Linked DNA regions of Homo sapiens. The protein of the gene in region 4 interacts with the protein of the main gene of each other region in a biochemical or structural test. Each region holds a gene or a part of one and is shown on either strand. Other genes may lie near its edges.

Region 1 (7,025 bases), on a different chromosome or scaffold from region 4:
GATGGGAGTATTAGGGGAAAGGAGAGAGGATCTGTGCAGAGGTGGGGAGGCGGAGTCCTGCAGGGCCCTTCTGTCCCTGCCCCTGGCTGTGCCAAATGGAACTGGAATAGTTGTGGGCAGGCTCGTCCTTAGGCTGTATTGGCAACTGGGTTTGTAGCTGGACCCGCTGGTGGTGCACGGGCTGCAGAAAAGAGGAAGAAAGGAAGCACAAAAGCTCTGTCTGGGATCCTTGAAAGTGTTGGGTGTGCACAGGCCAAGGTTTCTCCTCCCCCTGCAGGTGCAGGCCAGACCTGCTATGCTCAATCCTAAAGAGCTGGGGCTTTCCACCTGTGACCCAGGCGCTGTGGCCAGCCAGTTCCAGCAACAGAGTCGTAATGCAAAGCACACCGGGTCGGAGCCCAGGAGATGTAGGCAAGCTGGGGCTTTGCCACTAAGCTTCTGAGTGATTCAGCTCATCTGTGACCCTGCCCTGCCTGTAAGGATTCTCGGATGGCACTGATGTGATATGATTTACAAATAAACACACCTGCTGTGATTCTTAGTAACAGTGAGAATAAGAGTTCTCACTCAGATTGGAAAGGAGGCCCCGGGCTCCTCAGATTCACCCACAGCTCACCCACGGCTGACAGGTCGGGAGGGAGAAGGCGGGGGGCCAAGTCAAATGGGGTGCACTCCAGAAGTGGCTGATTTCCTGGGTGACTTTGCATTCACCACTTCACCTCTCTGAGCTTCGTGATGCTAATCTTTAGGAAAGGTAAATGATCCAGCTCAGAGTGTTCTAGGTACTTTCTTTTTTGAGACAAAGTCTCGCTCTGTCGTCCAGGCTGGAGTGCAGTGTGCGATCTCAGCTCACTGCAACCTCTGCCTCTGGGTTCAAGCAGTTCTCCTGCCTCAGCCTCCTGAGTAGCTGGGATTACAGGCAACCACTACCCTGCCTAGCCAATTTTTGTATTTTTAGTAGAGACAGGGTTTCTCCATGTTGGCCAGGCTGGTCTTGAACTCCTGACCTCAAATGATCTACCCACCTCAGCCTCCCACTGCTGGGATTACAGGCGTGAGCCACTGTGCCCGGCCATGTTCTACATACTTCTGTGGTTCCAAGCATATCTCCAGCTCCAGGTGCACTTTAGGACACAGAACTGTGGGGTCAAGCAAAGTCCTTCTGAATGTGGCCAGAGAGCCTGGGCAGCCTAAGTCTTAATGATCTACCAAGCTGCACAGAAGCAAATCCTCATTCTTTGACTCCCTCGGGCCCAACTAGACATGAAGCTGCTGAAGTCCTAGAGATGGACTTTTCCAGCTTGCTGATAGTTGAGTAATTTTCCAGAAACAGGACTTGGCCAGTCTCCCTGCATAAGGTACCAGCCCATCCCTCTTACATAAGAAAATAAGTATTGTTTACTCCCCCAGAGGATTCAAGAAGCCAGCTCCTCCAGGGCGGGGCTCAGAAGATCCCACAGCCAAAGACCCCAGGATCAAGGCTCTTTGGCCCAGTCTGAGTGGGAATGAAGGCTCTGAGGGGAGGTTTAGCCCCACCAGGCATCTGGCTGGGGGGCCGAGGTGAGGACTATTGCATGCCTCTGTGGTCTGAGTTCCCTCAGAGTACTAAAATGGATTTGTGTGTATGCAAGGGGAAGAGAGTTAGGTGGGTGCGGACAGAAGCAGTCTTAACTAGAAATACACTTACTAGGGTTTTCCTCTTTTTTTTTTTTTTAAGACTGTCATGCCGGGCACGGTGGCTCGTGCCTGTAATCCCAGCACTTTGGGAGGCCGAGGTGGGTGGATCACTTGAAGGTCAGGAGTTCGAGACCAGCCTGGCCAACATGATGAAACACCATCTCTACTAAAAATACAAAAGATTAGCTAGGCGTGGTGGCGGGTGCCTGTAATCCCAGCTACTCAGGAGGCTGAGGCAGGAGAATCACTTGAACTCAGGAGGCGGAGGCTGCAGGGAGCCGAGATCGTGCCATTGCACTCCAGCCTGGGCAATAAGAGCAAAACTCCATCTCAGGAAAAAAAAAAAAAAAAGACTCACCCAGGCTAAGTGTAGTAGTGTAATCATAGTCACTGCAGCCTGGACCTCCCCAGCTCAAGCTGTAATCCTCCCACCTAAGACTACTGAGTAGCTGGGACTATAGGCACACACTATTGCCCCAGCTAATTTTTCATTTTTTGCAGAAATGGGGTCTTACTATGTTGCCCAGTTTGGTCTCAAACTCCTGGATTCACATGATCTTCTCACTTTGGCCTCCCAAAATCTGGGATTACAGGCGTAAGCCGCCGTGCCCGGCTGGGTTTTCCTCGTTTTTTGCAGGATAAAAACACTTAAAGAATTTGTAAACAACCCAGTGAAAGTGAATGCCCCTTTCTTATCCCCATCCCACCCCACCCTTGGGGCTAACCATTGTTAACAGCTGGTACACATCCTTTCAGATATGTAGTGCAAACCTTTAGTTTTATTTTTTTGAGATAGAGTTTTGCTCTTGTTGCCCAGGCTGGAGTGCAGTGGCGTGATCTCGGCTCACCGCAACCTCCCACTCCCGGATTCAAGCTATTCTCCTGCCTCAGCCTCCCAAGTAGTTAGGATTATAGGCTTGTGCCACCACACCCAGCTAATTTTGTATTTTTAGTAGAGGTGCGGTTTCACCGTGTTAGCCAGGATGGTCTCAATCTTCCAACCTCATGATCCACCTGCCTTGGCCTCCCAAAGTGCTAGGGTTACAGGCATGAGCCACCACGCCCAGCCCAAACATATTTTTAAAATTGAAAAAAAAAAAAAAAAAAAGGACCATACTGTGTATATTATTCTGCAAGCTGCTTTTTCCACTTAATATATTGTGGACATCTTTTCACGTCAATACAGGAAGATCTGATTGCCCTTTTTTTTTTTTTTTTTTTTTTTTCAGACAGAGTTTCACTCTCATCTCCCAGGCTGGAGAGCAATGGCACAATCTCAGCTCACTGCAACCTCCACCTTCTGGGTTCAAGTGATTCTCCTGCCTTAGCCTCCCGAGTAGCTGGAATTACAGGCACCTGCCACAATGACTGGCTAATTTTCTGTATTTTTAGTAAAGACGGGGTTTCACTATGTTGGCCAGGCTGGTCTTGAACTCTGACCTCACGTGATCCACCCACCTCAGCCTCCCAAAGTGCTGGGATTACAGGCGTCAGCCACTGCACCCGGCCCTGATTGCCCTTTTTAACAACAGCCTGGTTTTCTAATCTATCTATTCAGTTCCCTGATGCTGGACACTTAGGTTGTCTCCAAATTGTCTGCCATTATAAATAACCCTGCAAAGAATCTGGGTGGCCTTGTCCAATTATTTCCTTTGGGAAAATTCTGGAAGTGGAATCTCTGGATCAAAGGGCCCGCCCTGTGTGTGGAGATGGCCTGGGTTCTGCCTCCCGTCAGTGGTGAGGGAAGGCCTTGCGCTGCCTTCATCTCATGCTGCTGTGGGCCACTTGACCTCTCCCTCCCAAAACCAGACATCACCATGGGCAACCTGAGGCTACTGCCCATCAATCTCGATCTCTAGTGGTCCTTATTCTTCTTCCCTGCCCTCTACATGACAAAAAAAATTCCAAAAACCTTTCTCTATGTTTCCACCCCAATGCATCAGACATAATGAACAGGAGAACCTGGAGCTGTAAGCCTACAACAATGAGGCTTTAGGTTACTGAGACCAGGGCTGTTGGTCCTTACCACTGCTGAGACAGAGCCTTGCTTACCTGAAACACATCTCCATTGACTGTGGTCCCCATGTCCTCAGAACCAGCTGGAAAGAGAACAAGGAGATAGCATTACTCACTGTTTAGCTTATAGCAAGCAGGAAATGGTCCTACATTAGCCCCTCAACCCAAACTCTGTGTATACCCATGTATATATCGACCCACATGCAAACAGACATAATGGATATATATATAACTTAGGCTCAATCCCACCCCTGACTGTTTATAAAGCCTCTCACAGCCATTAGTACATTTTATGTTCACCACAGCCCTGCAATGAAATTGTTGTCAACCCATTTTACAGATACTCAAGCTGAGGCTCAGAGAGGCCATGCTCAAAATCACCCAGCCAGTAATAGCTCCTTACCTACCTGAAATCACTGACCCCTGGCCATGGCTGGGAATGGCCAGATTACCTGTGAAGCCTGTGCCTGGTGAGTAGGCTGAGCTGCTGTAAGCTCAGGGCAGGGGCTACACTGGATAAGGAAGAGAGGGGCCTACGCGTCTCTGCCTGTCCCTGAGGCGCCTTGAGCAACTGCTCCTCCTGGGTGAGCAGGAGTTGCAGTTCCCACCAGAAGCACCTGGCATATTTTTTCTCTTTGTGCCCCTCCCAGAAGGAATTAAGTTTGCCCTCAGCAGTGACTCCTCCCTGTCCCTTTCCTTGACATTTGATTAGTCACAAATTCCTGGGGCTTCTGCTACAACACTGACATTCACAGTTGCCCTCCACTCTCTCCCGCAGCTCAGCCCCAGCCCAGGACCTCACCACCTTGCACCTGCACAACTGCTTTGCCCGCTAGGGGCAAACACCTGGGAAGACATAACTGTGTCTCTTTCTCTTCTCCTGTGTCTTTCCCAGAGACTTGCATGCACCTGTGACTTTGCAGGTGCTCAATAATTATTTGTTGAATAAACAAGTAAATACATGCATGAAAGAAAGACAACGACTGCATGGCTTTTGCCCATTCACAGGCCCCCTTGACTCCAGCCTCTCCCATCCCTCTTTCAAACCAATTGCCAGGGCTGACAGTCTGTAAAACATGCACTTACCTGTGCCTCTCCTCTGACTCAAAATGTCATGAAAACAAACTCCAAAGAAATCCACTTCCCATGGACCACAGTGGCCTATAGCGCCTACTCCTGCCTTGGGGACTTTGCAGGTGCTGTTCCCTCTGCCTGGAAGGCTGCTCCCTCACTCCCTTCAGCTTCTGCTCAAATGCTGCCTAATTAAAGGCCTCCCTGACCACACCCCCATCCACCCCTTGGGCACCCCTTCCTATTCCTCCTGCAGTATTAAGCGCACTTACTACAGCCTGCTGTGTTTATTTGTGTATGTGTTTATTATCTGTCTTCCCCCAACAAACAGACCCTCCATGAGGGTGTGGACTTGGTTTCATCCATGATGAGGCCCACCTACAACAGTCCCTGGAACATAACAAGGACTCAATAAATATTTGCCAGATAAGTACATCTAACCCTGGAACATGAGGATCTCTACAATCTGGCCCTGCCCATTCCTGACTCACTTCCCACCAGCCCATCCCACAAACCCTAAATTCTGGTTTCCTCCTTCTCCAAACACACCACCCTCATCCCCATGCTTTCTTCCTGCTTCCCTCTCTAAAGAATGCTTTTTTGGGCCGGGCGTGGTGGCTTATGCCTGTAATCCCAGCACTTTGGGAGGCTGAGGTGGGCAGATCACGAAGTCAGGAGATCGAGACCATCCTGGCTAACACGGTGAAACCCCGTCTCTACTAAAAATACAAAAAATTAGCCAGGCGTGGTGGCAGGCGCCTGTAGTCCCAGCCACTCGGGAGGCTGAGGCAGGAGAATGGTGTGAACCCGGGAGGCGGAGCTTGCAGTGAGCCGAGATCCCGCCACTGCACTCCAGCCTGGGCGACAGAGTGAGACTCATCTCAAAAAAAAAAAAAAAAAAAGAATGCTTTTTTGGCTCCATTTATTCTCCAAGGTCCAGCTCATAAGTCACCTCCTCTGGGAAGCCCTCCTCTGCTTCCTTTACTTCCCTAGGCACTTACGGAAGGTCTCACTTCCGGGGTATCCCAGGATATCATACAGTATCCTGCACCCTCTTGTGCAATTACTCATGACCCCCAGGGTCCGTGTGTACCCCCTTACCAGGCTCCGTGTCCTATTCAGCTCCTCAGGGCTCCAGCACGGAATGGGTGAGCAGTAACTATTGGCTAAATGGAAGTTGAATTGTTGTTTTGAGGCCTGCTGTTATCTGCAAGGCTCTCAGAAACTGCTGTGCCTCCTAGCAAAAAGCCATGGAGGCCACATGAGGTTAATAGGCAGATGGACAAATAGCCCTTCACCAGCCAGACAGGGCTGTGAGCAGCGACAGTGTGTTTGGCCTGGGGACTCAAGGGAAGGGTACTTAATCCCATGGAAATAATCCCCGGGTGACATAAATCATAATTGACTTTGCTTTCAGAGTCAACCAGTGATTGATTCCAACCAACTCTGTCAGCTGTCACTCCCATTCCTTCAGATAAGGCTTCTCCTGCATGGGTGTCCTGGCCCCTAAATCACAGTGGGACCAATAGCATTTCAGTGGCAGCATCTTCTGCAAAGGGGCTTCTTCTGCTGGGGTGTCTCCTCTAGCAGGGCCTCACGTTACCAGGGTCTATTCCCTGTGATGCCGGTCTGTACATTTGGCCTTCTCGAGAATTTGCACCACCCTACTCCGCCCTGACCAACCCCAGTCTCAGACCCCACATCTACACACAGCTGCCTGGGGTCTACCCTGACCTTCAGAAAGTCTCTCTGCCTCAGCCTCGAGAGTGTTCCTCTGGACATGCAGTTTCGGCCTCCTTAAGAGTCCACACACACCTACACAGCATTCCAAGTACCTGTTCCCACAGTGCTCTCCACCCACCCACTGCCCATCTACCACCGGGAGTCCACACTCACAGGCCAGCAGAACAGGACTGAGACAGAGACACGTCCCAGGGATAAACCCCTGAGGGTTTGCTTCCCTCAGCTGCCTGACCCATTTTGGAACAAGGGCAGAGAGGGTCCAGAACATTCCTGTGAGCTTACGAGGCCCAGCGGGGGAAATGGGCTTGCCCAGAACTGACAGGCAAGTCAGAGCCAGGCCTGGTGCTCAGAAAACTGGGTGTGAAAATGGAAACCTACCCAAGGCTGATGAATGGAAACAAAGTGTCCATCATCCAGATCACCCAGGGCCACAGATCCAGCCAGAGAGGAGGGGCTCCCTGTGGCTCCAGCACAGGCCTACACCAGATACCTCTTTCCCCAGGGGCAACTGAGCCCAG
Region 2 (7,025 bases), on a different chromosome or scaffold from region 4:
AGAAAGCTGAGGCAGGAGGATCACTTGAGCCCAGGAGGTCAATGTTGCAGTGAGCTATGATCGCAACACTGCACTCTCCAACCTTGACAACAGAGCAAGACTCCTACTTTCTGAAAATATTAGAAGTCAAGATCTGAGCTTTAGTGTATTTGCTTCTAAGATCTTTCAGTGGTCAGGGCTTAGTTACATTTATGTACATACATATGCTCATTTATGTACATACATGTGCATATACGCATGGAAAAATAAACACACAAGAACAGCTAGTAAAACACTGAAAACTGTAAAAGTGGACTAGTCCTACCAGATGTTGAACTGTGTATTACAAAGTCTATATAATTAAAACAGTATATTACTGGTACATGAATCAAAGTCCAAAACTAGATCCAATATCAGTAAGATTATCAATAAACATAGTTTAAAAGATAGGAAATACCCTCTAAAATGCTATAAAAAGTCCTTTACTTTTTACCTTGAAATTAATCTATCATATCTTCTTTAGGTTTGCAATGAGAATTCCCTCTTCAAAAGTCTTTCTCGCTACCTGGTACGTCGAAAGGATCCAGAATTGTGGGGCAGCGTGCTGCTGGAAAGCAATCCTTACAGGAGACCCCTAATTGACCAGGTAACATTGGCAAATGTGTTTATGGCTGTCAGTAAAAATTATACATTTTTAACTATGAATACAATCCTTTCCCTCATCATGTACTCAAATGGATCATATATAACTATGAGAGAAAGCAATACAAAGTAGAAGAAAATTAAAATTTATATATATTCAATTTACATTCATTTGTATATAATGAATGTAAATTGATTATATACATTATATACAAATGAATGTACATTTATATAAGTATAAATATGTATATAACATACATTAAGAAAAATAAGCCATGTGCGGTGGCTCACGCCTGTAATTCCAGCACTTTGGGAGGCCGAGGTGGGTGGATCACCTGAAGTCAGGAGTTCGAGACCAGCCTGGCCAACGTAGTAAAACCCCATCTCTACTAAAAATACAAAAATTAGCCAGGTGCATGTAATCCCAGCTACTCGGCAGGAAAATCGCTTGAACCCGGGAGGTGGAGGTTGCAGTAAGCCGAGATCACGCCATTGCACTCCAGCCTGGGTGATAAGAGCAAGACTGTCTCAAAAAAACAAAAAGAAAAAAGAAAAAGAAAATACATCCCAAAAGACCTGACTTAATTATATAAAACTCTCTTGGTTCATCATAGTTTAAAAGGAAAATAACAAACTAAACATTAAAGATTGCTATTATTAACACTTAAGTGGCTAAATTGATTGGAAACTTCAAGATAATAAGTCAGAAAAATATAAGGATAAGAGAAAATACAAAAGACCAAGTGCATCAGTGTTATATCTTACTAATAAGAAGTATAGAACTGCAAATGAGATGGGGTTTTATACCTAAATAAAATAGACAACATATTTTAAAAGTTCTAAAAATAGAAGAGTTGTTATAATGAGTCTTAAATTCTCCTGAGATAAGTATAAATAAAATATTTTGGAAACGAATAGGTTGAAGGCTATTAATATTTCATTCCTTTCCTAGGAAGCACTTCTAAGCAACATTCCCAAGTAGTTACAAAGCTTCCTAGGGGAAGGTTGTGGGGGTGGGGGCGATGGTTGGAAATCATTGCAGCATCTAGAAAACCAAGCAAATAGCCAAAACCAGACGAATTACCGATATTTTAATTCCACATCTGTGTAGCTGAATTTTGAATTATGTGTAGCCATTAAAGTGATAATGATGATTGCTAGCCTGGATAATGTTTTAATCAGGGAAAAGATAGAAATTATATAATTAGAGTAATTTTTCAACACAATTATACATATTGTATAGATTTGTGTAGAAAGACCTCTCTATGTAAATTTAAAGGTCTTTTTCCTACTTCATTCTTTTCTGCCTATTTCAAGTTTTCTAATGAGAGGCCAACTTACGCTTTTTTAAAACCAACTTGATTCTCAGTACTTATGTCCCATATATCCTCTGTAGGTTGTACAAACAGCTTTGTCTGAGACTCAGGACCCTGAAGAAGTGTCAGTAACTGTAAAGGCTTTCATGACTGCAGACCTTCCTAATGAACTCATTGAACTGCTGGAGAAAATTGTCCTTGATAACTCTGTATTCAGTGAACACAGGTATGCTTTCAGAGGGATCCATTGGCTATTTATAGTCAGTCTTTAATAAATTATGGCCCATCAGTTTTGGGAAGGAACAAAAAGATCAGAGAAAGTTGCCTGAATTCTCACTCTTCTAATATCCTCCCCCCTACCCTACCTCTTGAGACAAAAACCTCTCCGTTAGTCACAGTGGTTATTTTTTATGTCGGATAAACTTAAAATATTGCATTTAAAATATTCTTTTTTTTCTTAAAGGAATCTGCAAAACCTCCTTATCCTCACTGCAATTAAGGCTGACCGTACACGTGTTATGGAGTATATTAACCGCCTGGATAATTATGATGCCCCAGATATTGCCAATATCGCCATCAGCAATGAGCTGTTTGAAGAAGCATTTGCCATTTTCCGGAAATTTGATGTCAATACTTCAGCAGTTCAGGTAAATCTTCAGATTACCTAAGTTGAATTACTAAACACTGTGCTATGAGGGTGGGCCTAATTGGTTGCTACGGCAATAGAGCAGCAATAAAATACTAACAGCTTAAATGTAATTGCTTTGGGTAGGATTGATTTTACTCTAACCCTAATTTCAAACTTGGATACTTAGGTCTTAATTGAGCATATTGGAAACTTGGATCGGGCATATGAGTTTGCTGAACGTTGCAATGAACCTGCGGTCTGGAGTCAACTTGCAAAAGCCCAGTTGCAGAAAGGAATGGTGAAAGAAGCCATTGATTCTTATATCAAAGCAGATGATCCTTCCTCCTACATGGAAGTTGTTCAGGCTGCCAATACTAGTGGTATGACTTCTTACCTTATGTATTGAAACCTCATAAAATGATTAAGCTAAGCATTAAGATATCTGTCTATTCTGAATTTTAGAAGAGTTGGATACTGCATGGTTTCTTTTAGTGCTCCATCTTAGTCCAGATAAAAAGAGGCTGTATTTTGTGAATTTGTAAGTTCACAAAACTTACAAGTGGGGAAGATGAATCTTCTGTTTTTGAAGTCTCATAAAATCCTGATAGTGCTCTAATCTTAAAACTTTAAGGAAAAAGAATTCATCTATTCATTTGGTCCGTGATAATACAGAAGTGAAATATTGCACGGTTTACATTTGTCATTATCCATGTTTCCTTGAAAAGGAAATGAATGCAATTTTCATTTACTTGGGTGAAAGATAAACTAGGATGTTAGTGTTTGGATATATTTTTTCTTTTTCTATACTTAGGAAACTGGGAAGAACTGGTGAAGTACTTGCAGATGGCCCGTAAGAAGGCTCGAGAGTCCTATGTGGAGACAGAACTGATATTCGCACTGGCTAAAACAAACCGCCTTGCAGAGTTAGAAGAATTTATCAATGGACCAAATAATGCTCATATCCAACAAGTGGGTTTCCTTTTCAGATTTAAGAAAAACTAGTTGGGCTACTTGATTAGCTTGGTAGGATCAAAACATCATAACTGAAGAATTCCAAGGAAAAATCTATAGGAAAACAAATTCTTTCTCATTGTGAAGATATCAATTTGAAAAGAGGATTAAGCTCACACTAATATCTTGCTGAATGTGGGTTACCTTTTTTTTTCCAGGTTGGTGACCGTTGTTATGATGAAAAAATGTATGATGCTGCTAAGTTGTTGTACAATAATGTTTCCAATTTTGGACGTTTGGCATCTACCCTGGTTCACCTGGGTGAATATCAGGCAGCTGTTGATGGGGCTAGGAAAGCTAACAGTACTCGAACATGGAAAGAGGTAATCTAAACCCAAGTTTGAGTGAAGAATTAAAGAAACGCTATTTAAACATTAGTTTAAATAACTAGCCATGTTTTACATTTGAGTTCACAGAAAGGAAATGTTTATTCTAGGTCTGCTTCGCCTGTGTAGATGGGAAAGAATTCCGTCTTGCTCAGATGTGTGGACTTCATATTGTTGTACATGCAGATGAATTAGAAGAACTTATCAACTACTATCAGGTATTAACGAGACTTTTATATGACCTGAGATCTTTTACCATAGATATTCTTATCTTTAACTGCACATTTCTCTTGTTCAGGATCGTGGCTATTTTGAAGAGCTGATCACCATGTTGGAAGCAGCACTGGGACTTGAGCGAGCTCACATGGGAATGTTTACTGAATTAGCTATTCTATACTCTAAATTTAAGCCTCAGAAAATGAGGGAGCACCTGGAGCTGTTCTGGTCTAGAGTGAATATTCCCAAGGTAACCAGTCATTGTAACACAGTGAAGCAACTGTGTAGTTAAAACTAATGCTTCAAAATATCTTATTCTTTTTAAGGCTGTTAGCTAGACTCATATCTAAAGCAATTAAGTCTTTCTTATGCAGGTGCTAAGAGCTGCAGAACAAGCTCATCTTTGGGCAGAACTGGTGTTTTTGTATGACAAGTATGAAGAATATGATAATGCCATAATTACCATGATGAATCATCCAACTGATGCCTGGAAAGAAGGGCAATTCAAAGATATCATTACCAAGGTGTGTACTTTCTTCAGAAGATAAAGGATTCAGAAGGAGAAAGCTCATTAGGAAGTAACTGACTTATGTATGGATTTTCCCATTGTAGGTTGCCAATGTGGAACTATACTACAGAGCAATACAGTTCTACTTAGAATTCAAGCCTCTGTTGTTAAATGATTTGCTGATGGTGCTGTCTCCACGGTTGGATCACACTCGTGCAGTCAATTATTTCAGCAAGGTAAAGTAATAATTTTAAACCAAAGCTTCATAGCAAGGAATTAGGACATACTTCGATAACTTTTGTCCCTGGGACTTCAATAATGTGCTATATTTGTAACAAACTCTTTATTTTAAAGGTTAAACAGCTACCACTGGTGAAACCGTATTTGCGTTCAGTTCAGAACCATAACAACAAATCTGTGAATGAATCATTGAACAATCTTTTTATTACAGAAGAAGATTATCAGGTAAAACCTTTTGATTCTTGCACATAATCTCAAGACTCATAAAGTTATGTTTTCCCATTTTTTAAAAAAGCCATTATCCTTTAGGATTGTAAACAGTAGGTGCTTGCATACCTAGGATCTAAATTTAGTAAGATTTCAGGATTGATAAATCTTCTAATTAAGTGCCAAGTTTTCAGAATTTTGCTCAGATCTTGTATAAGATACTGCTTTTGAAAAAAATGATATGATTACTTTATCTCTAACATCTAGATTGTAGGTAGAGTCAAAAATGTCTTTGACCACTTAACTAATTCATAAAATTTATTTGGTATTAACTATATTTATTCACCATTTTTCTTGCCTACTGTTTTATTAGTGTTTGTATAAACTTTCTCTTATGAAGGATTTCACAAGCAAAAGTGAAGTAGAGTTAAGCTTAAGCTACTTGCCTTTTTTTCTCTCTCTTCATTTTCTTTGAGGCTCAGCGCATGCAGATCTGTACTGCTGCCATGCTGAGTTTTATCAGAAGTTTCTCTAGAGCACAGAATCTTGCCCTCCATGCCAGGCGTGGTGACTCACGCCTGTAATCCCAGCACTTTGGGAGGCCAAGGCAGGCGGATCACGAGGTCAGGAGATCGAGACCATCCTGGCTAACACAATGAAACCCCGTCTCTACTAAAATACCAAAAAAATTAGCCGGTTGTGGTGGCACGTGCCTGTAGTAGCAGCTACTCGGGAGGCTGAGGCCGGAGAATCGCTTGAACCCTAGAGGCAGGTTGCAGTGAGCCCAGATTGCATCACCACTGCACTCCAGCCTGGGCAACAGAGGGAGACTCCATCTCAAAAAAAAAGAAAAAAATCTTGCCCTCCAAATTAGAAATATTGTCCATTTCATAGCCATATGTTAGTCCTTGATAGTGAAAATCTTGGAGAAAATGGTATCTTTAGGTAAAATGAAAAATCATACCTTTTGATGCTTGAATCTAGGTGTCATATTACATGTTACCATCTAAGGGGCTCATTGATTGAGAACGGAATATAATGTTAAACAAAATACTGATCTGGCATTTGGATGGCTTTTTTTTTTTAAGGCTCTGCGAACATCAATAGATGCTTATGACAACTTTGACAATATCTCGCTTGCTCAGCGTTTGGAAAAACATGAACTCATTGAGTTCAGGAGAATTGCTGCTTATCTCTTCAAAGGCAACAATCGCTGGAAACAGAGTGTAGAGCTGTGCAAGAAAGACAGCCTTTACAAGGTTGATAAAGTTGCGGGGCAGGGGCTGTTTTAAACCAGGCCTAAAATGGTGTTACAAGTGATTATAATCTATAAATAAAAGTATTGGTTTTGTGAATATGAGAGCTGACTTTAAGGCAATTTAAGTTAATGGATTTCTTGATTCTAGGGGCTCTCTTATGTTAAGGTCAAACTTGTCTGGGGAAAAAAAAGCTTTTAGCTTATCTCTTCTTTGAAAATTTTAATTTAAATGATACAACTAGGAGGCTTTTTTCCCCTTGCAAAACCAGATTTATATTGGAAAGTTTCCATTGTTTTTCTTGGTTTACTAGTTCAGTATGTGGGGTCTAATGTTTTTGACTTTCACTATTTCTTTGAATAGGATGCAATGCAGTATGCTTCTGAATCTAAAGATACTGAATTGGCTGAAGAACTCCTGCAGTGGTTTTTGCAGGAAGAAAAAAGAGAGTGCTTTGGAGCTTGTCTGTTTACCTGTTACGATCTTTTAAGGCCAGATGTCGTCCTAGAAACTGCATGGAGGCACAATATCATGGATTTTGCCATGCCCTATTTCATCCAGGTCATGAAGGAGTACTTGACAAAGGTAATGACTCTTCTAAGTGTATTCAGAACTAGTTTCCTTGCATGTAAAATTCTACATGCACATTAATTTTTTTAAATGCTTTTTTCTTTAGTAGAAGTAAGTCATTTAGTC
Region 3 (7,025 bases), on a different chromosome or scaffold from region 4:
CTGGCCAGTTGTGACTTATGAGCCAGTTGGTATGGAAAGGTTCAACATGCTATCACTTAAAGAATTGAGCCTATTCCACTTTATACAGAAACAGAGGTTGAGTAAATAATCCCTAAGGCTCACTTTAACTCTTACCATACTATGGGCCTAGCACAGTGGTTTTTTTTTTTTTTTTTTTAATTCAACTGATTATTATTACTATTATTTTTGAGACAGTCTCACTCTGTTGCCCAGGCTAGAGGGCAGTGGTGTAACCACGCCTTACTGCAGCCTTGATCTCTGGGGCTCAAGCAATCCCCCCTCCACCTCAGCTTCCCGAGTAGCTGAGACTACAGGTATGCACCACCATACCCAGCTACTTTTTTTTTTTTTTTTTTTAATTTTCTGTAGGGACAGGGTCAACTATGTTGCCCATAGTCTTGAACTCCTGGGCTCAAGCAATCCTTCCACCTTGGCCTCCCAAAGTGGTCAGATTACAGGTGTGAGTCACCGTGCCCAGCATATTCAACAGACTTTACACTTAATGATAGGTTATTTCTAAATATATCCTTTAGGAAGAGGTCTATTTCAAACAAATATTCTGAGAATTAGAACTTAAACTGAAGTTTATGAAGCATTAACTTTACTGGCAACGTTTTCTTTCTAAAGCTGAGAGATGGATACATGGTGGGTATTACTGGTTACAGCTTTAGAGTGCATGGAAATATTTCCTATTAAGCTCCAATTTTAATTGTAGCAATGATAAAATGTCCACTAAGTGAAGAAATGGTTCCACAGAAGATTATGCTCACCCTCACAGCTGTACAAGCTAACTTGCAAGTAACAGAAGACTCATCCTTCAGTGTTTTCCGCAGCAAAGGAATGCAATCCGCCAAAGAAAATGTATTTCCTAACCAGAAGAACAAGCAACAAACATCATCATCTAAACTTAAACCTTAGTAAGCATAACTAGAAAAAACACAGCTGAAAAACTGGCCGTTACCTGTGAGGGTTCTAATGGTGCCCATCCAATCTCCCACGTGGAAGCGGGACCTGCTGAGGATGGAGCAGATGAGGGTCCCACAGAGAATGGCAGTGGCTCCTCGAACCTGTGGGTCTCCATGATCGATGTAGTTCAAGATGTCTGAGACATACTGTTCCTCTGTGGAGATAAATTGCTCAGCCATGGAACAATTCCCTACTATCAACTTTCTAACTCGAAACAAAAGCTTAATTCTCAGGAAAGAGAAAAAGAGGTGTGAAGAGAAGATCCAAATTCAGAAATGACTTCACTATAATAACCCTAAGTGATTAAAAAAAAAAAAGTTTCAGGATTTAAGAATTAGAGATTCATCATATTGCCAATATGTCCTCAATACCACAGACTTTCTGGATTATAATTCTAGGTTGTCAGATAATAAATCTGATTAAAATTCCAGATTCCACTTAAAAAAGATTAGAAAAAACCCTATTACACACTTACCTCATATAAATTCAAAAACACAAGTGTACCCTCTCACCCAAAGAAAAAGAGAGAACGAGAAGGCTCCATAGTAAGCATGGGCGCGATGGAGACTTGGGTCCACTGCTGCCTCAGCCAGTCCTGGTTCCCACTCACCCTGAGTGTGAATGCCTGGCCTGGCTGAGTGCGACTCAGCGCCACTGCGACCAGGCACAATTTGTGCTTTAGGTTTAAATCCGATGTGTATATATGTTGGCTCTTACGTGCTGAGGTTTCTACTTTTCTCCTCTATGGGTTTCATCTAAAGGGAACCCATGAAACAAAGAACTTCACTATTCATGTGTTTTCTGAAGAGCTACAACGCAGGTCAAATATCCCAAATGAACTCAAAACACTTACTGCTCTAAAACTAAAATAGTCAATACTGAAATAGTTTTTACAATAATGATTAAATCTGAGAAAATAAGATGTGAACTTTTAACATACCAGGGTATTCCGTGGTGTCAAGAGGAACTTTATAGAGTTTGCTGAAGAAAGATTCCGGGTGGAGGGCCACAGCTGCTCCCACACAGCTGAGGGCCAGGGCCTTCACGCTGACCCTCACATCCCTGTCCGGAACCAGCACTGCCAAGAAATCACCCAAGCCACCTTCAGCCTCAAACAACAGATTGTTTTCAAATGAACAAAACCAGACCCAATAACCTACCTGCTCCCATCATTTCCTCCCTCCCCTCGGCTAGTGAAAACCAAACTCATCCTCAGATTCTACTTCCTCTGCTGCACGCAAGGCAAAAACAGGCCACCAAGCTGACCTCTGAAACCTAGTTATTTCCTTCAACTGTGCACATCCCCTTTTGTACTCACCATTTTTTCCCCCTGTTAGCAAAAACGAAGCAGATAAAAGGCGGACACAATGGACAAGAGGTGCAGAGTCATCATCAGTGGACTGTCCAATGTCACCTTTGATGCGGCAAGGCTAGAAAGGAGACAATGACACTTGTTTGTCTCATACTCAACAATACATTCATGCATTAGTTCATTCAACAGATAGTTCCAGAGCAGCACTTAAGCCAGGTGCTGGGGATAAAGAGATGCCCTGGTTTGTGCCCATATGCACACCTGACCTCACAGAGACCATGGCCAAGCAGAAACAGACAAGTCAGAGGCAGCAGGACACAGGGTCACAGGGCTGTGGCAGGGGATAAATGCAGCATGCAGGGAGGGTGGGCGTGGTAAGAAGGCAGTTGACACTAGGCATTCAGGAACGGCTGCTGCAGAAGCAAAGCATGAAAGGTCTTCTACAGGACAAGCAGAAGCTACTTGGGGAAAGGCAACAGCCTGGGGAAGCCCAAATCTAAGAGGAAGTGGGCCTGGTAGATAGGGAGATGCCAAAGGCTATAATTCTGATTGATGGGACGAACTGTGAAACGCTATTCCTTGTCCTTGAGGAATTAAAAGTGAAGACAGTTACATTTACATGTAAAAAGATAATATGAAGAGAGACTTTTAGAACAGTTCAGTAGAACCAAAACAAGAAACGTTGCAGGCCATACGCAACCATCAAATGAATGATCCAAGAAATCAGACAAGGAAACATTCAGTACAGAATAGATTTGTCTGGGGCACACTCTCAAAGGAGGCAGAACTCAGGCAATTCTCAAGGCTGTGGGTAGTACCTGGAAAGGCAGAAAACAACAGGCCTGGGAAGAGCTGGTATTTAAAGGGGAAATTTAAAGGCCCAGGGATGGGAAAGCAATAAAGTAGACAGTAGCCAGGGCGATTTTAAATCCTCACACAAGCTCAGAAACACCAAGTCGTCTCAAGCCTATGTCCCTCACCTTGTTTTCTTGATCACCCGGTTCAGTAGCTTCATCTCTCAACACAAATTTATCAACACTGCTGTCAGAAGGCTGCCTGCAGTGACTCATGTTTTTCAATAAATGTGCCTGTTGAAGGGCTTTAAAAACAGAGAAATCAAGATTAAGTGACAAATTTCCACTTAAAATACAATTATACATTTATGCTAAGATAACTCAAAAGTATAAGATTTAGATCAAGAAAAAGTATGATTATTCCTCAATTGGTCATTTTCATCAGCTATTCAGAACTCAGAAAACAGTATCAAAGGACTTCTTCTTGGAAGCAAAGATATAATTAAGATGTCCAGGTCTGAATACAAACCACTTTGTAGCGCATCACCTGTAGTCCACATACCCATGGAAGAGTTCCTGAAGGCCTCCGAGGCTTCATCAGGAAGAATACCTGTGGCTTCCTCATCTTCATCCTGGGGCTGTCCAATCTGCAGGCCCAAATACTGGTTGTCGGTACCGTCTAACACCTAAACGGTTCAAGGGGGGCTGTGAGAATTTTGAAGTGTGATCACCAAGAGACAAGCCCTCCAACATGGAAGTGCAATGAGGAAAGAGCACATTTTACACACAGAACACAAATGTACTCATCTGTCATTTATTTCAAGGCACAGAAATGCACGCATGGAAACTGCTAAGAGCTTACTGATCACTCATTCCCACTACATTATGAAAAGCTCTATTAGCTCTAAAAACTCCAAAAAAATTCCAATGTGGACATTTCTTTTTAATATGAAAAAGAAAAAACCCATACAAAAATATTTGTCTTCACAAACAAATTTTACAGCAAGTTGGAAATATGAGGACAAAGCTTTTCGACAAAAACCTAACAATATAACAGGTTATCTCCTAAATTGCAAAGACTAAATCTACTAAATTTAGGGTATGGTATTTCATATGTTTAGCCATCAGCTTGGGGCATGATTCCACATCACAAGATGTTTCATGTCCACTTGAAATGTCCTGTGTAATTTACCTAAAAAAACTGAACAATGGACTACCAGCAAATTATTACCAAAATACTATTTTATTAAGTTTGTTAACTACTATACTATTAAGTAAAACACTCAATGATATGAATGTTTTAAATTAAAATTGGAATGTAAAAGCAACTCCATTTCTGGGTATTTAGCCAAAAAAATGGAAAGCAGAGTCTCCAGGAGCTATCTGTACACCCACGTTCATAACAGCATGATTCACAATGGCTAAAACATGAAGCAATACAAGTGTCCATGGACAGAGGAATGGAAAAGCAAAATGTGGCCTATCCATACAATGGAATAGTATTTGGCCTGAAACATTAGGAAGTTCTAACATAGGCTACAACATGCATGAGCTTTGGGGACATTATGCTAAGTAAAACAAATACTGTGTGACTCCTAAAGTATATGAGAACCCAAAGTAGTCAAATTCAGAAGACAGAAAGAAGAATCGTGGTTGCCAGGGACTTGGCGGGAAAGGAGGAATAGAGTTCAATGGGAACAGAGCTTCAGTGTTACATGATCAAAAGGTTACAGAGATGGGTGGTAGCAATGATTCCATGACATTATTTAAATGTATTTAATACCAGCGAACTGTATACGCAAAAAATGGTTAAGAACATAAATTTTATGTTACACATATTTAACCACAGTTTTTAAAACTGAAAATAAAATGGAGTATAAAACTCAACATGGACTTGTAGCAAACATTATTAGACTATCCATGAGGGTTTTTTGTCCACTAACTTAGAGATGAGAAGTGCTTAAACCTATGCCGCTATCAAATGGGAAATGTTGTAAAAGTTTTTTGAAAAGTCAAAAGTTCTTAAAATAATGCACAGTATTAATCACATTTCATTAAGACCACAGATCTGTTTATAATAGGCTCCTTAAGGATTTTTAAAAATAATTATTTAACCAGGGCCCAACAAGGCCTTAAAAAATGTAAAATGCACTCAATTTTAGCAGAGTTCATATAATCAACTATTCCAATTTTTTACCTCAGTGTTCAACACAAAAGACACTAAGTTGTTTCCTTCAGTGAAGGTATCAGATGAGGTCAAGCTCTCCATTAATGATCTAAGCTGCGCTGTCAATAGGGGTATTAGATAACAAGAGAACAAGCAGGAGGGTTCAGGTCTAGGTCTCCAGGGAAGAACTCAAAAGATGGCAGGTGGCAGGGCCGGGCATGGTGGCTCACAACTATAATCCCAATACTTTAGGAGGCCAAGGTGGGTGGATCATCTAAGGTCAGGAGTTTGAGACCAGCCTGGCCAACATGGTGAAACCCTGTCTCTACTGAAAATACAAACATTAGCTGAGTGTGGTGGTGCCCACCTGTAATCCCACCTACTCAGGAGGCTGAGGCGGGAGAATCGCTCGAGCCTGGGAGGCAGAAGTTGCAGTGGGCTGAGAACGAGCCACTGCACTTTATTTTTTTATTTTTTTTGAAATGGAGTCTTGCTCTGTTGCCCGGGCTGGAGTGCAGTGTCACGATCTCGGCTCATTGCAACCTCTGCCTCCCAGGCTCAAGCAATTCTCCTGCCTCAGCCTCCCTAACAGCTGGGACTACAGACATGTGCCACCACGCCCAACTAATTTTTGTATTTTTAGTAGAGACAGGGTTTCACCATGTTGGCCAGGCTGGTCTCGAACTCCTGACCTCAAGTGATCCGCCTGCCTCAGTCTCCCAAAGTGCTGGGATTACAGGCATGAGCCCCTGTGCCCGGCCTCCACTGCACTATGGAGTGAGACTCTGTCTCAAATAAAAAATAAAAAAAAAGATGTCAGGCCCCTCTGCCCACTTACAATTTCAGAACTGTCTGAAGGGGTAACAGCTGAATCAGGCCCTTCGGTGGTGGTCTGGGAGCTGTCGCTGATGGGCGACGAGGCCTGGGTCCCATCATTCAGGTCCATGGCAGGGTCAGATGGGACGGCGCTGACCTGGCTGGAGCTGTGGCTCAAGATATCCTCCTCATCCCCATCAGTGGCAGAGCTTGTCAAGTCACAGCTGGCCAGATCCACTGAGTCCGCCTGCAGTGTGTGCTGTGACCGTGGCTGTTCTGTGATGATGTCATGACCTGCTGACCCTGGAGTGGAAACCCCTGAAGAAGCAGCCAGCTCTCCACTGATCTCATCCTTCACTGAGGCTGAAGACAGAGAAACACTCATTTGTCAAATGGCGAGAGAAAACATTCAATAGGGAATCACAGGCTTGCAAAATAACGAACAGTTCCACCGTTATCAAATGTTTCAGCTGCACAGCATCCTGAAGATGCTGAAATGCAGGACAGCAGTGCATCCTTCAAGCATCTCTCACACTGCCTCCCACTACAGTACCCACCTTATAAAATAAGGCTTATCAGAAGGTGATATTCTCAAATGCTGTTTCACTGCAAAAACCGAAGTTCAAGTTCTTAACCGACTACTCCAAGCCTTAGCTGGAGCAATATATAAAGACATTTGTAATTAAGGGGCAGCCTAGTCAGGGGCGCAAAGCTAGGCGGTCACAGACACGCAGGCCCTCTAAGCAAGCAGTGGTCAGAAACAACTGTCAACTCATCTCTCTGGGGTGGGCTTGCCTTCTTCCAAGCCACATTCAAGATCTCGACTCCAGTCCTATTCTCCTGGAAGATAAACCTGTAACACATTTTCCTAGTTGACTTTCTAAATTACCATTTAAAAACAAAAAAGGCTATATAAAAATTATGGCAAAAAGGTCGACATGAAGCTGTT
Region 4 (7,322 bases):
AGAGTTTCAACACCAGAGGCTGGGTGCAGTGGCTCACACCTGAAATCCCAGCACTTTGGGAGGCTGAGGTGGGAAGATCGCTTGAGGCTAGTTCAAGACCAGCCTGGGAAAACACAGTGAGACCTCCGTCTTAAAAAAAAAAAAAGTTAAAAATAAGAGTTTCAACATCAGAAAAATTCTCTTTTTCTGCTCCACTCTACTTCACCCCCACCCACCCCACCCAGGTCAAATCTGGCCAATCACAAATGTCCCACAGAATGTAAAACACCAGAAAACACTGACCTAGACTCTCCTGTTGGGCCGTCCCTGGATAGCAGGGAAACATACCACTCACGGGTGGAAACTTTCACAAACCTAATTTCTATCACTATTATGGGTCAAAGTCTTACGCATATTTCTCTATTGCTCTAGTTTTTACTTATTTGAGACTCTAGAAGGAACGGGTTGTTAAAAAATAATATCTATTTATTTTCTTATTTCATTTATTAAAAAAAAAAATAGGGCTGGGTGCCATGGCTCATGCCTGTAGTCCCAGCACTTTGGGAGGCAGAAGCAGAAGAATCACTTGACGCCAGGAGTTTGAGACCAGTCCGGGCAACACAGTGAGACCCCCATCTCTATGAAAATATAAAAATAAAAGGAATATACACACTGTTTCATGGAGCAAGAAGCCTCATGTAACTAGGCAGCTAGCAGAGGCACTAACATCCAAGACCAATGGAAAACTTCCTTCTTTTCAGGGGTCGGGTCCATGAAACCAGAGAACAAGCCTCAAACCTAGCTGGATCCTGGGAGGCAGAAGTGAAATGACCATTTCCCACTTCCCTCCTGGGGTAGGATAACCAGGTAGAGAAGACTCCCTGCTTCACACCATCCAGACACACCTGCATGGAGGCACTTTCTTTTTTTCTTTTTCTTTTTTTTTTTTGTAGAGACAGGGTCCCACTGCTTCACACTATCCAGACACACCTGCGCGCGGTTTTCTTTCTTTTTTTCACTTTTTTGTAGAGATAGAGTCTCACTCTGTCACCCAGGCTGGAGTGCAGTGGCACGATCATAGCCCACTGCAGCCTCAGCCTCCTGGCTCAAGTGACCCTCATGCCTCAGCCTCTCAAACAGCTGGGACTATAGGTGTATGCCACCACACGAGGATAATTTTAAAATTTTTTCAAAATAGAGGCGGGATCTCAGTGTGTTGTCTAGGCAGGTATCGAACTCCTGGGATCAAGTGATCCTCCCACCTTGGCCTCCCAAAGTACGGGGATTACAGGTGTGAGCTAATGCACCCAGCCTAATTTTTTTATTTTTTGTAGAGACAGGGTCGCACTATGTTGCCCAGGTGGGGGGCCAAAGGTTTTCAGAATAAGAAGAGGGGATGAAGTCCTCTGGGGGTGAAAAGCTTTATTCTTTTTTATTATTATTATTTTGAGACGGAGTTTCGCTCTTGTTGCCCAGGCTGGAGTGCAGTGGCGCCATCTCGGCTCACTGCAACCTTCACCTCCCAGATTCAAGCAATTCTGCTGGCCTCAGCCTCCCAAGTAGCTGGGATTACAAGCGTCTGCAACCACGCCCAGCTAATTTTTTGTATTTTTAGTAGAGACAGGGTTTCACCATGTTGGCCAGGCTGGTCTCAAACTCCTGACGTCAGGTGATCCACCCGCCTCGGCCTCCCAAAGTGCTGGGATTACAGGTGTGAGGTACCGCGCCCGGCCAAAAGCTCTATTCTTTGAAAGATTCCATATACAGAACCTTCAGTCAGATTCTCACTGTCTTTTCTAACTAAAATCCCAAAGCCCTTTCCCTCCAACTGTGTTTGGGGGAAGTATTCCTCGCATAACACATCAGGGGACCAGCCTCTGGAGAGGGGGACCCAAATGGATCTTCAAAGGTTCCACTCTGAGCACAAGAGTGTAGAAGAAATCTGCCCCTCCAGCATTGGCACTGGGATTAAAAGAAGCGTTGTACTCTTTGAAATGGATTTTACATACAAATGAATTGATGAACACCATCAACATGTCAGCTTAATTCAGCCCAATCAATACACCAGGCATTAAAAACTCGGAGAAAAAAATGGATTGTGGCTTTTTGTTGATGACACTGAGGAATTTTGGCCCCAAGCCCTGGCCAGGCAGGACAAATAGGGCAGTCTGCCTATTAGCTGTCAGGCACATCTTGGGGGATAAAACCAAGACCCCAAGTCAGGGCTCAGGGGCACCATGGTCTCCACTTTAGCCCCCAAAGTAATTTTCCCACAAAGTGGCCACACTTTGCATTTCCTACATTCCTTTTCCCTGCTCCGACCCCTTCCGCCCGGCCTCAGAGCTGACAGCTGGGGCTGGCCAGAGCCAAGCAAGAGGCATCGAGAAAGGGGGATGCTAAGGGGTGGGGGGTGGGAAGGGATGTCAATGCAACCAAGAAGTGATCGGAGGGGAAGAGAGGTCCCCTCACCCTTCACATTCCCAGCCCGGCGCCCCCACTCTCCGCCCCCACACTTGAGCCTCCAAGTGGCTCCCGTGCGCTTCCCTTGTTTAGGGGCAACCCTTCCATTCCGCCCCTTTTCAGTTCCTTCCCCTCTCACCTCATCTTGGGACTCCTGCCCGGTACCCAGCCGATCAGGCTCCTCTTGGCCACGCATCCTGCCATCTCCTCCGAGCCCGCCTCTGCCCTTCTCCCCAGGCCAGCTGGGGTACCCTGGGGTCCCCGACCTTCCTGGGATCGCCCAGATCTGCACGTCAATGCCCCCGCTCACTACACCCTCGCCCCGTCTTCAACTGGGGCCTGCAAGACTCCTACTCCCTTCAAAGCCCCTCCCGGACACCGCGTCCCTCAGGGTGCCCCAGGGATGCCCCGGGGTCCCCCGTCCTCACCTGAGTCCGCTCGAAGCTCTCGCGCTCCGCCGCCTCCAGCCCAGCGCCGACCCCGCGCCGGCTCAGCACCTTGGGCAGTGGGTTGGGCACCTGCTTCATGGAGCTGGCCATCCGATCCATGTCGCCGCGAGGAGCCGAGTCAGGGGCCCTCGGCTGCCCCGGGATCCCCACGGCGCCGCCCGCCCCGCCCTACCCGCGGGGATCCGGCGCTAACGGGACGGCTCCCGCCTGCCATTGGCTGTGAGTTCTGCCAGTCTTCCAGAGACCCCGCCCCTCGCCGAACGGCTTCCCCGCCCGCCCCCGCCCCTTCAGGAGCCCCTCCGCTGGCTCGGCCCCGACTAGCCTCTCGGGGCCTCGAGGCGCGTGGTGACTGGTCTGGAGTCCTGTCAGTCACCGTGGTCCCGCCGTTCTAGGCAGGGCCGGGGCGGGGTGCGGACGGGGCGAGGCCTGGATGGGGCGTGGCCTGGGCGGGCTGCCCTGATATGCCCTCGCTCGCCCCGCCCCCGCCCGCGCACCGCCCTCTCCTCCCCTCGGCCGCAGTCCCCGCGCGCCCCGAGCGTGCTGCCCTCCGCCAAGCGCCGCCCACTACCCTGCCCGCTCCTGCAGGGGGCTATCCCGCGACGGCCCGTGGAGATGGGCGGGGATGACGCGGGCCGGGCAGTGGGGCCTCCCCCGGGGGAATCCCAGCCCGCCTGCGAATAGCCCGTTAGCTCCTTCCGGGCCTGGGACCCGGGAGCGCCGGACTGACCAGCCCTGCGGCCGCAGCCCGGGAAAGCGCAGCCCCGCGGGCGGGGCGCAGCGTGGGCGCCTGGCCGGATCCGGCTCAATGGGTGGCCGCCCCCACCCAGCTCCCAGGCTTCCCCGTCCTGCACTTCTCCATTCTGCCCCTGCCCATGCCCTCTGCAAGGATCGCAGAGCCCAGGTCCCGGAGTTCGGGGCTGAGTCCGCGGGCACCTCCCGGGACCTGCCTCCCAAACCTCATCAAAGGAACCCGTCAGAGCTTATTTGTTGGTAGAAAGCCCTGTAGACACTTTCGGTTTATCTTAGGCTCTGAGCCGCGCGTCCCATCCTGCTCAGACGTCAGCCAGGGTACCAGCAAGCAGAGAGAAGTGTGATGCTTAGCAGGAGTGCTGGAGAAAGTTAAAAGTTTTCCGTTAAACTCCAATTTAGGTGTGTTTTTGTTTTTGTTTTTGTTTGTTTTTTTTTTTTTTTTTGGTTTCATTTGGAGTCAGTCTCCCTCTGTCGCCCAGGCTGGAGTGCAGATCGTAACACACTGGGACCTTGAGCTCCTGGGTCCTAGCGATTTTCCTGCCTCGGCCTCTCGAGTAGCTGGGACTACAGATGCACGCCACCAAGCCTGGCTATCTTTTTTGCAGAGATGGAGTCTTTCTATGTTGCCCAGACTGGTCTCGAACTCGTGGCCTCAAGCAAGCCTCCCACCTTGGCCTCCCAAAGTACTGTGATTACAGACATGAGCTACAGCACCCGGCATAGATGTATTTTTTAAAAGTTATTTGAAACTCGGAGTAATGAATGGCACCTTTAGGCCTAACAATTTGGTGATTCGTGTGTGTGTGTGTGTGTGTGTGTGTGTTGTAAATTTGGCCAGGTGCGGTGGCTTACACCTGTAATCTCAGCGCTTTGGGAGGCTGAGGCAGGCGGATCGTTTGAGCTCTGAACTTTGAAACCAGCCTGGGCAACATAGCAAGACTCCATCTGTACAAAAAATTTTAAAATTAGCTGGGCGTGGTGGTGCAAGCCTGTAGTCCCAGCTACTCACAAGGCGGGAGGATTACTTGAGCCAGGGAGGCAGAGGTTGCAGTGAGCAGAGATCGCGCCACTGCACTCCAGCCTGGGAGACAGAGCGAGACCCCGTCTCAAAAAAATATATACATATTTCTTTGTAGTGAGGGGTATGTTGCTGGATTGCCCAGGCTGGTCATGATCTCCTGGGCTCAAATGATCCTACCACCTCAGCCTCCCAAAGCACTGGGATTACAGGTGTGAGCCACCCTGCCCTGCCTGTTTTTTTTTTGTTTTTGTTTTTATTTTTTTTAATAAGAGCGTTTGGTAAAAATTCACACATTCAATAGAGAAGTGAAAGAGGGGTGGGCATTTGCGGTTACTAAGGAGCCACTGAAGACTTTTGCTCAGATGTGTGCACTGAGGAGCTTGTATTGTGGGGATGGATTATGGGGGCCTGATGGAAGGGAGGAAATCAGTGGGGAGACTCTAGCGTAGATGAGAGATGATGAGGGCCTAGAAGAGAAGGGAGAGGAGGAAGTTCTGTCCCGTGGGAGGTTACGCAAATAAGGCTTGGACACAGGGATTGGGGGATGGGCAATGGCGGTGCCATTCAGGCTACATTTGCATAGGAAGGACTGGACTGGTTTCACCTTTACTTAAATTGTGTTTCTGTGGGAGGCTTTGGGAGTGCCCCCTCCCTTGTGTTGCTTTGGGAGAGATTAGATGTCACCTGATTTTTCATGTCTAGGGAGAGGGAGATGACAACTGAGCGTGGGAGCACGGTAGGGGCGCTGACAGAGGAAGAGGAAATTACCTTGGCCGGGCACCGTGGCTCACACCTGTAATCCCAGCACTTTGGGAGGTCGAGGCGGGCAGATCACTTGAGGCCAGGAGTTCAAAATCAGCCTGGCCAACATGGTGAAATTCTGTCTCTACTAAAAAATACAAAAAAGTAGCCAGGTGTGGTGGCATGTGCCTGTAATCCCAGCTACTCGAGAAGCTGAGGCTGGAGAATCACTTGAGCCTGGGAGGCGAAGGCTGCAGTGAGCTGAGATCGCACCAGTGAACTCCAGCCTGCATGACAGAGTGAAACTCTATCTCCAAAAAGCAAAAAACAAAAAACAAACAAACAAAAATCTCAATTTTTAAAAAACATTTATTTATTTAGAGATAGGGTGTAGTGACTTCCTGCTGTTCCAGCAAATCCTGGTGCTTTGCCAATTTACCCGTCCTGGTTGATTCCCCTAACTCAGGTCACACCTTTGTACATAGTTTCTTCCTTTTTTTTTTTTAAGAGACAGACTCTCGCTCTGTTGCCCAGGCTGGAGTGCAGTGTCGCAATCTCAGCTCACTGCAGGCTCTGCCTCCCAGGTTCAAGTTATTCTCCTGCCTCAGCCTCCCAAGTAGCTGGGATTACAGGTGTATGCCACCATGCCCGGCCAATTTTTGTATTGTTAGTACAGACAGAGTTCCACCATGTTGGCCAGGCTGGTCTCGAACTCCTGACCTCAAGTGATCTGCCCGCCTCAGCCTCCCAAAGTGCTGGGATTACAGGCATGAGCCACCATGCCCATCCATGTCTGGCTAATTTTTAAAAAATTTTTTGTGGCCGTGCCACAGTGGCTCATGCCTGTAATCCCAGCACTTTGTGAGGCCAAGGCAGGCAGCTCACTTGAGGCCAGGAGTTCGAGACCAGCCTGGGCAACGTGGCAAAACCCCGTCTTTACTAAAAATACAAAAATTAGCAGGGTGTGATGGCACGCGCCTGTAATCCCAGCTATTTGGGAGGCTGAGGCACGAGAATCGCTTGAACCCTGGAGGTGGAGGTTGCAGTGAGCCAAGTGTGATGGTGCACACCTGTAATCCCAGCTCCTCAGGAGACTGAGACGGGAGGATCCCTTGAGCCCAGGAGGTCGAGGCTGCAGTGAGCTATGATTGCACCCCTGCACGCCAGCCTGAGAGACCGAGACCCTCTCTCAGGAAAAAGAAAGAGAAGGAACTATGTACAAAGGTGTGACCTGAGTTAAGGGAATCAACCGGGACAGGTAAAGCACCAGATATTACTGGAACACCAGGAAGCTGTTACCATCTCTAGACCTAAAGAGAAAAGGGGAGGGAGCTGTGCTGTAACCTGGTGGGGGCTCTGGTCATGGGAAAGTAGGCATTTTCCCAGAGCTGTGACCTTAGGTAGAAAACCCACAGTCACTGTGGAAAGTGGCGTGGCAGGGAGGCAGCTGGGGGATGAATACCCCAATCTCTCTCTCTCTCTTTTTTTGTTTTTTCACGACAGGGTCTCATTCTATTGCCCAGGCTGGAGTGCAGTGGCACAATCTCGGCTCACTGAAACCTCCGCCTCCCGTGTTCGAGTGATTCTCTTGCCTCAGCCTCCCAAGTAGCTGGGATTACAGGTGTCCACCACCACGCCCGGCTAACTTTTGTATATTTTTATTTATTTTTATATTTATTTATTTATTTATTTATTTATTTATTTATTTATTTATTTATTTGAGACAGAGTCCTGCTCTGTTGCTCAGGCTGGAGTGCAGTAGCGGGATCTCGGCTCACTGTAGCCTCCACCTCCCAGGTTCAAGCGATTCTCCTGACTCAGCCTCCTGAGTAGCTGGGATTACAGGCGCCCATGACCAATTCCTGCTAATTTTTGTATTTTTAGTAGAGACAGGGTTTCACCATGTTGGCCAGGCTGGTCTT

Evidence for each region.
Region 1: the proteins of HIP1 (region 4) and CLTB form a complex in vitro, tested with the Homo sapiens proteins (2 studies listed by BioGRID, with this or other methods).
Region 2: the proteins of HIP1 (region 4) and CLTC form a complex in vitro, tested with the Homo sapiens proteins (3 studies listed by BioGRID).
Region 3: the proteins of HIP1 (region 4) and HTT form a complex in vitro, tested with the Homo sapiens proteins (2 studies listed by BioGRID).

The regions. Positions count from the first base shown.
Region 1 is NC_000005.10:176,406,528-176,413,552, forward strand, and holds part of CLTB (clathrin light chain B), read right to left. Parts: intron 4,951-7,025; exon of another isoform or gene 4,780-4,950; intron 4,297-4,779; exon of another isoform or gene 4,101-4,296; intron 3,777-4,100; coding exon 3,730-3,776; intron 182-3,729; coding exon of another isoform or gene 11-181; exon of another isoform or gene 1-10. UniProt on the Homo sapiens protein: Clathrin is the major protein of the polyhedral coat of coated pits and vesicles.
Region 2 is NC_000017.11:59,678,895-59,685,919, forward strand, and holds part of CLTC (clathrin heavy chain 1), read left to right. Parts: intron 1-502; coding exon 503-625; intron 626-2,017; coding exon 2,018-2,163; intron 2,164-2,400; coding exon 2,401-2,584; intron 2,585-2,752; coding exon 2,753-2,945; intron 2,946-3,376; coding exon 3,377-3,534; intron 3,535-3,734; coding exon 3,735-3,899; intron 3,900-4,012; coding exon 4,013-4,120; intron 4,121-4,200; coding exon 4,201-4,368; intron 4,369-4,492; coding exon 4,493-4,642; intron 4,643-4,730; coding exon 4,731-4,862; intron 4,863-4,980; coding exon 4,981-5,091; intron 5,092-6,161; coding exon 6,162-6,332; intron 6,333-6,692; coding exon 6,693-6,914; intron 6,915-7,025. UniProt on the Homo sapiens protein: Clathrin is the major protein of the polyhedral coat of coated pits and vesicles. Two different adapter protein complexes link the clathrin lattice either to the plasma membrane or to the trans-Golgi network.
Region 3 is NC_000004.12:3,126,678-3,133,702, reverse strand, and holds part of HTT (huntingtin), read right to left. Parts: intron 6,440-7,025; coding exon 6,099-6,439; intron 3,780-6,098; coding exon 3,656-3,779; intron 3,399-3,655; coding exon 3,280-3,398; intron 2,418-3,279; coding exon 2,306-2,417; intron 2,066-2,305; coding exon 1,928-2,065; intron 1,142-1,927; coding exon 983-1,141; intron 890-982; coding exon 792-889; intron 1-791.
Region 4 is NC_000007.14:75,735,934-75,743,255, forward strand, and holds the start of HIP1 (huntingtin-interacting protein 1), read right to left. Parts: upstream 3,009-7,322; 5' UTR 2,988-3,008; coding exon 2,868-2,987; intron 1-2,867. UniProt on the Homo sapiens protein: Plays a role in clathrin-mediated endocytosis and trafficking. Involved in regulating AMPA receptor trafficking in the central nervous system in an NMDA-dependent manner. Regulates presynaptic nerve terminal activity.